Homo sapiens: one gene and its partner. The protein of the gene in region 1 interacts with the protein of each later gene in a pairwise test. Each region holds a gene or a part of one and is shown on either strand. Other genes may lie near its edges.

What was found. The genes of interacting proteins can lie anywhere in the genome.
Region 2: the proteins of MELTF (region 1) and HPGDS interact in binary tests that used the Homo sapiens proteins (3 or more experiments, as listed by UniProt).

The regions. Positions count from the first base shown.
Region 1 is NC_000003.12:197,000,551-197,006,190, forward strand, and holds the end of MELTF (melanotransferrin isoform 1 preproprotein), read right to left. Parts: intron 4,195-5,640; exon of another isoform or gene 3,944-4,194; intron 3,810-3,943; exon of another isoform or gene 3,631-3,809; coding exon of another isoform or gene 3,550-3,630; coding exon 3,351-3,549; exon of another isoform or gene 3,052-3,350; intron 2,902-3,051; coding exon 2,822-2,901; 3' UTR 1,190-2,821; downstream 1-1,189. UniProt on the Homo sapiens protein: Involved in iron cellular uptake. Seems to be internalized and then recycled back to the cell membrane. Binds a single atom of iron per subunit. Could also bind zinc.
Region 2 is NC_000004.12:94,304,086-94,312,147, reverse strand, and holds part of HPGDS (hematopoietic prostaglandin D synthase), read left to right. Parts: intron 1-3,404; coding exon 3,405-3,514; intron 3,515-8,062. UniProt on the Homo sapiens protein: Bifunctional enzyme which catalyzes both the conversion of PGH2 to PGD2, a prostaglandin involved in smooth muscle contraction/relaxation and a potent inhibitor of platelet aggregation, and the conjugation of glutathione with a wide range of aryl halides and organic isothiocyanates.

The DNA.
Region 1 (5,640 bases):
AGTAATAGCAGTAGTGACAGTGAACATCCTTCCTGCACCCACCGTGTGCCAAGCACTGTGCTGAGTGTTTTGTGTCTTAGACTCTATGCCATGTGCCAAGCACTGTGCTGAGTGTTTTGTGTCTTAGACTCTATGCCGTGTGCCAAGCACTGTGCTGAGTGTTTTGTGTCTTAGACTCTATGCCGTGTGCCAAGCACTGTGCTGAGTGTTTTGTGTCTTAGACTCTATGCCGTGTGCCAAGCACTGTGCTGAGTGTTTTGTGTCTTAGACTCTATGCCGTGTGCCAAGCACTGTGCAGTGTTTTGTGTCTTAGTCTCTATGCCGTGTGCCAAGCACTGTGCTGAGTGTTTTGCATCTTAGACTGGATCTTCACAACCACCTCACCAAGCTGGTGATCGTACTGTGTGTTTTTCAGATGAGGGGCTAGGGTGCCCAAAGGTTAACTTTCCTTTCCAGAAGTTCAGGGTAGGGAAGTGGTAGCATGAGGCGAGCTGGAGTGACTGTGCAGCTGAGACTCGTCCATGTGATGCAGAGACAAAGTCGGTCAACTCTGGCCATCCAGGTCCCCAGGAATTGACTGGCTTTGTGATAACTGAGCCGACTTCATGGAAAATGGCCTGTGTGCAGTGGTGGGCAAGACCTGGCTCTGGGAGATGGCCACAGCGGCGAGGGGTGGTGGTGTGGGGGCCAAGTGAAGCCATGAGAGAGGGAAGCAGAGAAAACCTCCCCTTCCAGAGGGAGAGCAGAGCACTGATGAAGACCAGCCGGGCCCACCCCCACCTCAGTAGATACCACAGAGCACCCACTGTAGGGTCTCTGGGAGATCCGCTCCCCACGCCCCCCTCCAGTGAGTTAGCAGCGAGCTTGCCAGAGAAAAGATGTGGGCCGCTTATTTTGGAGGTGTGGGGCAGGGGGCAGCAGAGAAGTTTGCACCCTTCTCTGCACCCATCCACAGAAGGGCAGACACCCCAGAGCCTGATGGGGTGGAGGCAGCTGGAATGTGCCAGGGCAGCGGAGGCCCTGCAAGAGCCAGAGAACCAGTCCAGGTCGAAGAAGGGCGCGGGGGGCCTCACTGACTAGAGGATGAGAGTGGTCCCTGACTGGCTCTTGGAGAATGGAATCTGCCCTTCTCGGTGGAGCAGGTAGGCCTTTGAGTGCCTAACAAAACGAAAGAAATCGGCAGCAGAAGTTTCTATCAGGGTCCAAGCCTCTGCATGTGCTGGCTTGTTTGGCTTTATTTTAGAAACCAACCAACATGTTTCATTAGCACTGACACAGCAGGGGTCCCCTGCTGCCACCTGACAATCCAGCGTCACTTACACTGCACCCACGCAGGCCACACCTTCAATGGCCACGGCACGCTAGCCCAGAGTTAGCCACACAGAAACACACTTCTCACCGCACAAAACTCCCTTTTGAAAAAACCAAGCAATCGTCAGGTCGGAGGAGAATCACTAGCCCCCCACAGCGAGAGGGGACAAAGCTTGGTGGCCGAGGCCCAGGTCCTTGTGGCCCCTCCCGGTGGGGTGAAGGTGCCCGGGACTCCTCGGGGTTGCATGGCTACAGCCGGGGCGCTGCCAGGGCCTCCTCTGCGGCTGAGAGATGGAAGGGATCCTTCCCGACGCCCGCAGGTGGGGGCGAGCCACCGGGAACCGGGCCTGTCACCAGCATCCCCGAGCCCCCGCAGACCGGAATGCAAATGGCTCCGCGCCCACGCGGCTCCCGGTCTGCTGACGAGGGCTGCCTGCTCCCATTTCTTCTCTTCCTCTTCATTTTTTTTAAGGGCTGCCAGTTCTGGAAACTTTTTCTGGCTTCTCAGACAACTGTGGCAAGATGGAGTAGAGAGAGGCCCCGGCCGGGCGCTTTCTGCTGCCTCGCGGAGGGGCGGGCACGGGGAGTGAGGGGTCCCCAGGCCCAGCGGGTGCGGGGCCGGGTGAGGAGACGGAGCTCACCCCCGTTCGGAACCCAGAAGCATGGCGGGTCCCCACGCGCAGCCCTTCAGGGGCCTCGGGAGCCCGCGGCCTGGGTCACCTCCGGCTCCCTTCAGGCGGGGGGCGGCTGCTGCCGCCAGGCTCGGGCGTGGGTGCGGGCGGTGGGCATCCCACGGGGGTAGGGGAGGCGAGAGCCTGAGGAGACTCGGGAGGGGGCCCGTGGACGCGGCTGGCCCGGGATGGAGCTGGCGCGGCCACAGTGGGGGACGAGGCAGGGCACGCGGCGTTCCCCGGGCTCGGCCTCCCTCCCAGCGCACGGGCGGTCGGAGGAACTGGAGCCCCCACCCCGGACACGGTCCCGCGGGCGAAGGCTTCTCCCCGTCGCCCCGGTCCGGCCTCCCTCCCGCCGCCGCCAGCAGAGGCCGCTGTCCCACGCGCCGGGTCCCGTTGGCGCCGGGGCCTCCTGGGACGGCCTGGCCGCGGCCTGCGGGTGTAGGCGCCTCGGCGGCCACCGCGTCCCCAGGGGGCCTCGCGGACGGGGGCGCGGGGCTGCGGGGAGGAGGCGGGCGGGCCCCTCGGGCGACACCGCGGGGCGGGCGGCGGGAAGCCCGGACTCAGCGGTTTCCTGGGCAACCGGCCTCCTCCGGCGCGGCCCGCGCGGCTCCAGGTGGCGGGAGGCGGCGGTTGGCGGGAAGGGCCGCGCGGGCCCGGGGGCGGCGCCTCAGGTAGCAGCGCCAGGTGGCGCCCGTGGGCGGCGGGGCTCCCGGGGAGGCGCCTGCTCCCGCCCACGCCGGGCCCGGCCTTCGCGAGCTTCCTTCTGGATTCCAGCGCGAAGCCGCCGCGGAAACTCCCCGGGCGGGCATCGGAGCTCTGGGGCGGGGCGGCCGGGCTCAGAGGGCGGGCGGGAGCAGGCGGGCGGCGAGGGCGGGCAGCAGCAGCGGGAGCAGGGGCGCCCCGGGCGCCGGGGCCGCTGGGGACGAACGCGGCGGGTCAGGCCCCGAAGCCCGGGCCGCGGTGGCCGCCTCAGGCGCCCGCTCTGGGGTGGGGGTGGGGGCATCTTTCGGGACCGAACTCGCCGCAGCCTCCCTCTTTGTGCTCCTTTCCCCTGCTGCCCTTCCAGATGCGCTCTTTCCAGAAAGGCAGCACACGCATGTCTCTGCCGTGGCCCCAGATCCTCCCCGCGCCGCCGTTTTGAGCGTTCACACTCATTACCCAGGTCCGTCTGGGAGACCCGCCGGGCTCCCGCCCTCCCGGCCCGCAGCCTCCTGGCCAAAATCCTCCCGGGACACCCCACCTGGACTGCTGCGAACGGGCCTCCACCCGCCTCCCCGGACCCGCAGCGCCCCCCGCTCCCTCAGGGTTCTGGGGTGAAGGGGTCTGAATAGCACCAGGGGAGGCGGCAGGGCGGGCCTGTCCTACCTGCGCCCGAGCACTGCTGAGACGACATCCCTTCCAGCGCCGCCACGTAGTCCAGCCCCAGCCAGCCGCGGTAGGTGGTTTTCTCTCCGACAGGCACCGCCCGGACGGTGGCATCCTTGAAAAGCAGGTCTTGGCCATGATAGTTGGAGGAGTCGAACATTTTGAACCCGTTCTTATTGTGGTCGTCTCCAAACAGGTCCTGGAAGCACCGCAGGCAGACGACCTGCTCCTCACTGGGCTCAGGCAGGGTCACCCGCCCAGTGCCGCTAGCTGCAAATTGCTTTACATACAGTGACCCAAAGAGCAAGTCATTTCAGGGCCCCACCACTCTGATTGGAAGTCATAAGCTTGACAACTGATTGGCCTCTGTCACCCAAGCGGGTGTGGGGACACTAGGCCCGCAGGTGCCACTGGAAGAGGCGTTCAGAAGCACTGCGGTGCTCCAGCTCCTGGATGCAGGTCTGAGGCCTGAGATGTCCAGGAAGAAAGACCCAGAAATGAGGGATGGTGTGGGTGGGATTCCTGAGCGTTCTGCTAGGCCTGCTGAGCACTTCTTGGCCTTTTCCATAAGGCTTTCTCACTCTGTCTTACAGATATCTCCCCACAAACCTAAACAATTTCGAGAGGGACTTGTGTTCTGCAACCAGTCACAGAATATCAGGTGAGCTGGGCGTGTCTTCACTGACCCACCCGCCCAGGGATGCTGCACTCCTCTCCACCCTGCTCAGAATCACTAGAATGACCGTTCTGTGGCTACAGCCCTAAAAGAGCTACTAAAAAGACCAGAAGTAGTATGAGAACTTATGAATACGAATATAAATAAAGGACATCTGGAGAACATGCATGAATGTCTATGTAAAGTGTTAAGTACTGATCAAGGAGGAACGAAGGAGTCAGGTGGCTCTCAGTCTTTTTGGAGGGACTCGCAGATCCTCCTGAAGATCTGATGAAAGCTGTCAGCCTTCTCCCCAGAAAAATGCACATCCACCCAGGATTCTTCTCCCACATTACTTCAGAGGACTTAGCAACCCCCTAGGGAAGCCCAGGGACCCAGAGTAAAGCACTCCTGGGATAGAGGGGTTCTGTGGGGAAGATGACAGGAAGGAACATGCGTCAGTTCACAATGTCAAAGTTTAGGAACAGGCCTGGCGAGCCAGCCAGCTCTGCAGTTCTGTGGTGCTGGTGGGTGTGGAGAAGGCAATTTCAGCATAAGTCGGGGGAGGGGGAGTGGTTAGAAACCAGTGGCTCCATTGTGAGACAACCTGGGTTTAAATTCTAGGTATATTTTGAAAGCACAACCAATGGGATCTGCTGATAGATTGGCTGTAGAGCACGAGAGGAAGACCGGAGTCAAAAATGACTCCCGAGGAAATGGAAAAGCTAAAGTTGCTCTTAATTGAAGTGGGGAAGACTGAAGGAGGGACGGGGGTCCAACTTTGGACTTGATCCATTTGAGATGACTGTTAGAAACACAAGTCAAAATGTCAAGTATGTAGTTAAATATGCAAGTTTGGGACTGATGTCTGAAGATGTAAATTTAGAAGCCATCTGTATATAGATGGTATTTGATGACATGGGATTGGATGAGATCAAGGGTAAGCTGTAGACAGGGAAGAGGGCTGAGAACTGAATCCTAGGGCTAACAGGTCAGGGAGATGGGGAGGAAATCAGCAGAGAAGACTGAGGAGTGGCCAGAGAGTGAGAGGACAGCCAGGCAGGGCTGAGGACCTGGGCATCTGCAGGGGAAGGTGTTTCCAGGAGGAGGGAGAGCTGTGGCCAGTGCCACTGAGAGGTCAAGTAAAATGAAGACTGAGAAATGGCCACTGGGTTTAGCAACATGGGTCACTGTGACCTTGACAAGAACAGCTTCAGGGCCCTGGTGGGAGCCTGTCTGGGGTAGTCTCCATCCTTAAGAGGGGCCAGAGGAGAGGACTTGCTAACTCAGTCTCCATCCTTAAGAGAGGCCAGAGGAGAGGACTTGTTAACTCCAGAGCAGACCACTCTTTGGAGGAGTTTTGCTTCGAAAGGGAGCAGGATTGGCCGGGCACAGTGGCTCATGCCTGTAATCCCAGCACTTTGGGAGGCCGAGGTGGGCGGATCACGAGGTCAGGAGATCGAGACCATCCTGGCTAACACGGTGAAACCCCTTCTCTACTAAAAAATAGAAAAAATTAGCCAGGCATGGTGGCGGGTGCCTGTAGTCCCAGCTACTCAGGAGGCTGAGGTGGGAGAATGGCGTGAACCCGGGAGGCGGAGCTTGCAGTGAGCCGAGATAGTGCCACTGCACTCC
Region 2 (8,062 bases), on another chromosome or scaffold:
CAGAACTGAAGGAGATAGAGACACAAAAAACCCTTCAAAAAATCAATGAATCCAGGAGCTTATTTTTTGAAAAGATCAACAAAATTGATAGACTGCTGGCAACACTAATAAAGAAGAAAAGAGAGAAGAATCAAATAGATGCAATAAAAAATGATAAAGGGGATATAACCACAGATCCCACAGAAATACAAACTACCATCAGAGAATACTATAAACACCTCTACACAAATAAACTAGAAAATCTAGAAGAAATGGATACATTCCTCGACACATACACCCTCCCAAGGCTAAACCAGGAAGAAGTTGAATCTCTGAATAGTCCAATAACAGACTCTCAAATTGAGGCAATAATTTATAGCTTACCAACCAAAAAAAGTCCAGGACCAGATGGACTCACAGCTGAATTCTACCAGAGATACAAGGAGGAGCTGGTACCATTCCTTCTGAAACTATTCCAATCAATAGAAAAAGAGGGAATCCTCCCTAACTCATTTTATGAGGCCAGCATCATCCTGATACCAAAGCCTGGCAGAGACACAACAAAAAAAGAGAAGTTTAGACCAATATCCTTGATGAACATCGATTGGAAAATCCTCAATAAAATACTGGCAAACTGAATCCAGCAACACATCAAAAACCTTATCCACCATGATCAAGTGGGCTTCATTCCTGGGATGCAAGGCTGGTTCAACATATGCAAATCAATAAACGTAATCCAGCATATAAACACAACCGATGACAAAAAACCACATGATTATCTCAATAGATGCAGAAAAGGCCTTGGACACAATTCCACAGCCCTTCATGCTAAAAACTCTCAATAAATTAGGTATAGATGGGACGTATCTCAAAATAGTAAGAGCTATCTGTGACAAACCCACAGCCAATATCATACTGAATGGGCAAAAACTGGAAGCATTCCCTTTGAAAACTGGCACAAGACAGGGATGCCCTCTCACACCACTCCTATTCAACACAGTGTTGGAAGTTCTGGCCAGGGCAATCAGGCAAGAGAAGGAAATAAATGTTATTCAATTAGGAAAAGGGGAAGTCAAATTGTCCCCGTTTGCAGATGACATGATTGTATATTTAGAAAACCCCATCATCTCAGCCAAAAATCTCCTTAAGCTGATAAGCAACTTCAGCAAAGTCTCAGGATACAAAATCAATGTGCAAAAATCACAAGTATTCTTATACACCAATAACAGACAAACAGAGAGCCAAATCATGAGTGAACTCCCATTCACAATTGCTTCAAAGAGAATAAAATACCTAGGAATCCAACTTACAAGGGATGTGAAGGACCTCTTTAAGGAGAATTACAAAACACTGCTCAACAAAATAAAAGAGGATACAAACAAATGGAAGAACATTCCATGCTCATGGGTAGGAAGAATCAATGTTGTGAAAATGGCCATACTGCCCAAGGTAATTTATAGATTTAGTGCCGTTCCCATCAAGCTACCAGTGACTTTCTTCACAGAATTGGAAAAAAACTACTTTAAAGTTCATATGGAACCAAAAAAGAGCCTGCATTGCCAAGTCAATCCTAAGCAAAAAGAACAAGGCTGGAAGCATCACGCTACCCGACTTCAAACTATACTACAAGGCTACAGTAACCAAAACAGCATGGTACTGGTACCAAAACAGAGATATAGGCAGACCAGTGGAACAGAACAGAGCCCTCAGAAATAATACCACACATCTACAACCATCTGATCTTTGACAAACCTGACAAAAACAAGAAATGGGGAAAGGATTCCCTATTTAATAAATGGTGCTGGGAAAACTGGCTAGCCATATGGAGAAAGCTGAAACTGGATCCCTTCCTTACACCTTATACAAAAATTCATTCAAGATGGATTAAAGACTTCAATGTTAGACCTAAAACCATAAAAACCCTACAAGAAAACCTAGGCAATACAATTCAGGATATAGGCATGGGCAGGGACTTCATGTCTAAAACACCAAAAGCAATGGCAACAAAAGCCAGAATTGACAAATGGGATCTAATTAAACTAAAGAGCTTCTGCACAGCAAAAGAAACTACCATCAGAGTGAACAGGCAACCTACAGAATGGGAGAAAATTTTTGCAATCTACTCATCTGACAAAGGGCTAATATCCAGAATCTATAAAGAACTCAAACATATTTGCATGAAAAAAGCAAACAACCCCATTAACAAGTGGGCGAAAGATATGAACAGACACTTCTCAAAAGAAGACATTTATGCAGCCAAAAGACACATGAAAAAATGCTCGTCATCACTGGCCATCAGAGAAATGTAAATCAAAACCACAATGAGATACCATCTCACACCAGTTAGAATGGCGATCATTAAAAAGTCAGGAAACAACAGGTGCTGGAGAGGATGTGGAGAAATAGGAACACTTTTACACTGTTGGTGGGACTGTAAACTAGTTCAACCATTGTGGAAGTCAGTGTGGTGATTCCTCAGGGATCTAGAACTAGAAATACCATTTGACCCAGCCATCCCATTAGTGGGTATATACCCAAAGGATTATAAATCATGCTGCTATAAAGACACATGCACACGTATGTTTATTGCAGCACTATTCACAATAGCAAAGACTTGGAACCAAGTCAAATGTCCAACAATGATAGACTGGATTAAGAAAATGTGGCACATATACACCATGGAATACTATGCAGCCATAAAAAATGATGAGTTCATGTCCTTTGTAGGGTCATGGATGAAGCTGGAAACCATCATTCTCAGCAAACTATCTCAAGGACCAAAAACCAAACACTGCATGTTCTCACTCTTCTCTCTCATAGGTGGGAATTGAACCATGAGAACACATGGACACAGGAAGGGGAACATCACACACCGGGGCCTGTTGTGGGGTGGGGGGAGGCGGGAGGGATAGCATTAGGAGATATACCTAATGTAAATGACGAGTTAATGGGTGCAGCACACCAACATGGCACATGTATACATATGTAACAAACCTGAATGTTGTGCACATGTACCTTAGAACTTAAAGTATAATTAAAAAAATAAAAAAATAAATTGTGGCGCATCTACCTCAATGAATCCCTATGTAGCCAAAAAAAAAAAAAAAAAAAAAAAAAAGCAAGTACACCCTTTGGGTACTTGTAAAGAAAGATATGTAGGGGACATGGGATGAGGAAGCATATCTAGTGGGATATATATTTTATTTGCTTGTATTTTCATAAAGAAATAATGTAGAATACTAATTAAAGTGGTACCAGTAAGGTAGGTAGGTAAGGGAGCAAAATGTGGTGGATGGAAGCTAGTCTTCACTGGATATTGTTTTACACTCTTTGAATTTTCAACCATATGAGTATACTATCTGTTAAAAACAAACTTTTTAATATAGTAAATTAAACATATTGATGGGCCTCTCTCTATTCCACAGATTTGGCTGGAAACACAGAAATGGAACAATGTCATGTTGATGCTATTGTGGACACTCTGGATGATTTCATGTCATGTTTTCCTTGGGCAGAGAAAAAGCAAGATGTGAAAGTAATGTGATCCATTTGCTATTCCTAGTATTAATTATATACCACCTGCCAGACATTGTGTTAGGTGCCTTAGAAAGTTCCTTAATATCAAAAGAATATGTATAATTTTAAAATACCAAATTATATTTTAAAAGTTTAAAATAAAGTACAGCAATTCCCTATTGTACCCCTTCACATTAACTCCTCCCCAGATGCAACCCTTTTAAAACTTTGTTTAGCAGTTTCTTTAGGATTTACACATTTCCATATTTCTATAGGATAAATAAATATGACTTCCTCTGATTGACCAATTGTAAATGATTTCTCAGGACTTATGATAGTACAGGTTAAGCATTCCTAACCTGAAAGTCTGAAGTCCAAAATGCCCCAAACTCCAAAACGTTTTAAGTACCAAGATAACAGCACAAGTGGAAAATTCCACATGTAAGTACTTAACACAAACTTTAGCAAATGTGCAAAATTATTGAAAATACTGTATAAAATTACCTTTGGCTATGTGTATAAGGTGTAAATGAAACATAAATGAATTTGGTTTTTAGATTTAGGCCCCATCCCCTATATATCTCATTATGTATATGCAAACATTCCAAAATCTGAAAAAGTCTGGAATTCAACACAATTCTGTTCCCAAGCATGTTGGATAAGGGATCTCAACCTGAAATAACAATTTTTCTCTTACATAGTCATCCTTTCTGCTTCCTTTTCACCAAGCTCCCAATATTGTGATGTGAAAATTTTTTGGTTAATTATCCTGTGATTAGTAGGCTATGCAAATAATGCACAGAACTGTGCACTGTAGTATGCTTTTATATTTTCTTTCTCACTTTTCTTCCTTAAAATTAGTAATTGCTTTCTTTTGCTTCTTTTCACTTTTACTGCTGACTTTCCACAGTATCCAATAGCCTGCCAATACGATTTTCCACAAGGTCAACGTAGTGTCAGTTCATCTGTTATTTCCAATATTTCTTGGAGCGCTCTCTAGGAGACTTCCATTCTTTGTGGAGTTCTCCAGGTTTTCTGCACAGCTGTCATCATTGGAATTCCCTTTGCTGTTATTCCAGTGATGCCATTCTATGGAGCTGGAGTCCTGTTCCTGGATGCTGCCTTCTTTCTTTGTTTACTCCATTGTTTATTTGGGGGCACATCCTCTAGTATTCCAAAAGTTAAAATGAAGGCTTGATGACAGCAGATATGATTATGACAGATGGCATGGATATGTCTATCTTGTGAGTCACACTGCTTCGCTCTGGTATGGTTGTCCTAGATACTTGGTCACAGTTGTCATCCTGAGATCTTTATTATTACCCAGGATTTTTTTTTTTTTTTTATGTTTTCCTGGGTTCATTCTCCTGTTTTCTTTCCTTGCTTTTGTGGAACAGTCCTCTAAGAGCTTACTGGTCATAGGAAATAAAAGTTTGGGGCTTTTGGGGCCTTATTTGTTTAAAGATGTTTTTATTTTATTCTCAAACTTGTTTATAGTTTGACTGGGTGTAGAATTCTGATGAAAGTAGTTTTTCATTAGTATTTGAAAGGCTGTTGAGAAGTTTGAATTCAATGTAATTACTGACCTTTTGTATGTGACCTATTTTTTTTCCACTCTGAAAGATTACAAAACACGTGCCCTTAGAGTTCTAAAATTTTGCAATGGTGAGTCTTGGTATGATCTTGTTTTCATCCATTGTGCTGTTTCCTTGGTGATTCCGTTCAATCTGGGACCCATGTCCTTTAGTTCAAGGACATTTCCTTTAATTCTTTCATTAATGATTTCCTCCCCCTTTATTTTCTTTGTTCCATTATAGTAGAATTCCAGTAATTCAGATGTTGGTTGGCTCTTTTCCTATTTCCCGTCTCTTGGCTTTTCTGCATTACTTTTAGAAAGCATTTCTCATCAGTCCTTGAGTTCTAAATTTCTGATATTGTGCTTCTAAATTTATAAAAATTCTTAGGCTGTTTTCCGCTAAGAATGGGGAAGGGACAGCTGTCTAGTAATGTAAAATGAAGAACATCCCATGCTAAAACCGCTTAATAGTTTTCCACCAATCCTCATTTTATCCCCTCCCAAACCTCCTTAACCCCAGTTCTAGACATATCCGGTCATTTCCTGAGCCATTTAAGGATTTTGTGTTGTTGATAGGATTGGTTCTTGGCTTTCCCTTCACAGGTGCCATTCACCCATCTGCTTACTAGCTTCAAATTTTGTTTGCTCTTATCTCCTCTCTTTCCACTTCCTTGTGGGTTCTATCTTTTTAAAAATATTCATTACTGTGGTTTAGAGATGAATGCAAAATGATATATATTTGTCAAATTATTCATCTTTATGCAGAATTCTAAATAGACGTCTTTATTACAGCTTCTAGTGGTTTCCTTTAGGACGCTCATCACAGTCTCTATTTTAAAGAGACTGGCAGGTGGTGTGTGATTACTTGTTTGTTGTTTGTCTCCTCAAGCTGGATGCATCGTGGGGTAGGAATCATGTCTGTATTATTCAACTGATCCCCCACCGCCATCACAGTGCCTTTTACATAGTAGGCATTACACACTTGTTGAATAAGTGATCAGAACCACACTCATCAAATGCACACCATGTGCCTGTGTTACTCTCAGCTCTATGTGTTATCTCAGTCAGCCCTCCTCCCACTTCAAGATAAGTGCTTTTTATTGTCATGCTCACTTTCCAGATGAAGACACTGAGAAACAGAAGTTACAGAGTTGCCCAAAGTCACACAACTGACAGAACTGTGAACTGAGCCCAGACAGCTGAATTTAGATCCCATAGCCTCATCACCTAGGTATACAATTGCTTAAATTAGTAACTAATTTAAGCATTCCTTTAGAATGAAACTGCTGTTATCCTCATCTTCCAAGTAAGAAAACAAGAGTTTCATGTAGTGTAAACAACTTACCCAAAATTGTTCAGCTAGAAGTGGTGCAGAAGGAATTCAAATCGTCACTGACTCAAACCCCAGGTTCTTAACCACTGGGTATAATACCACAGTGCAAGCAGCTGTTCAAAACAGCTGCGCATGAATATTTATGTACATGTTAAAGCTAAAGCCTATAGTCGAAAGCCACAGCACAAATAGCAGGCAGTCTTATCAATTTACTTAAGCACATATTTAAGCACATACTATCTACTTAGTATTTATTGTAAATACTATTTAATTAGCACCTTCTGATTTGAATAGAGATATCCGGACACAAAAGTATTTACATTGACTAACTCCATGATATAAATGTAAGGTGTGTAGGGTCTGCCCACACACACACGTATATATATAGGCCTAGCCAGGAAATAATGAAGCTCAGCTTTGATGATAGAAATACAACTTTTTGACATAAGTACATTTAGGCTCTGGAGTCAAACTGCCAGGTTGAATCCTGATTCCCTTCTTACTAGCTGTCACTTAACTCCCTATTTATAGTTCAAACTCTTTGTAAAGTGGGAATACAACAGGCTCTACTTTGAAGTATGTTGGCAGGATTAAATGTTAGCATATGTGCCTATGGCTAGGTAGGAAGTGTTAAATATTAACTATTATAATTAATAGTGTTATATACTTTGGTGTTAATTGTTTTTACTATTTGTCAGACATGGCATCTGTATTTTACATATCATTATAAATGTAGAAACAGATGCTCTCCAATTTAGAAGTGTCTAAAGATTTTTGTTCCATGTACCAAACACCCCCCTAATGTGCAGTCTATCAATTTATCAGTTTGCTCTTCTCTACTTTTCTATTTTCTACCTTTCTGTGGCTGAGGCTCCATAACAGAGACCACCTCCCAGAGGAAAATATTCTTCGAACATTTATGATAAGAGTAACACTCTACCTTTGTATTAGAATAACAACTCTCTTACATACCACCAATTCCAAAAAAACAATTTCAAAGGACACAGCAATCCAAGTTCATGATTAAATCATACAAAGGCAGAACACGTTGCAGAAACATTGCTGATAGCTATAGACTATCTAATTAACAAGCAGGACTTGGCTAATATATAATGAAAAATGCACTGTTCTGTATTTCATTTCTTAGACTGTTGGTAGTGGGCTACATTGCTGCCATCTTGTGGTCAGGTGAAAATTTCAAAGGCAGAATATTGATGCACTTAAGATGGATAGTGAATATATTCTTGTCATATACACCTTAAAAATCTACCAAATACACACAATTTTACAGTATTTATTACTAAAAATTCCATTTCCAATAAAAAAAGAATTAAAAGCAAAAGATGCCTTTGGATATTGGTCACCATGACAATCCTTGAACTCACCATTAGTGTTACTTTGGTTATTTAATGTATCTGTGTTTCCATTTCCTCATCTAAAGAACAGGATGGGGAAGAAGAATGAGAAGGCCTGAGGACATTCTGATGTCGTGGTTCCAACACAAAATAATTTTGGTAGTGCATATCTGAAAATGCTTTTGAGAAATATACGAACCTCTCTAAAAGTCATTTGTTAAACTTTCATAGCAACAAATTCTCAGGGTGAAAAAACCTCCTCTGAAAAGGGAGGCTAGAAATTTCTGAATCCATCAAGTAAAG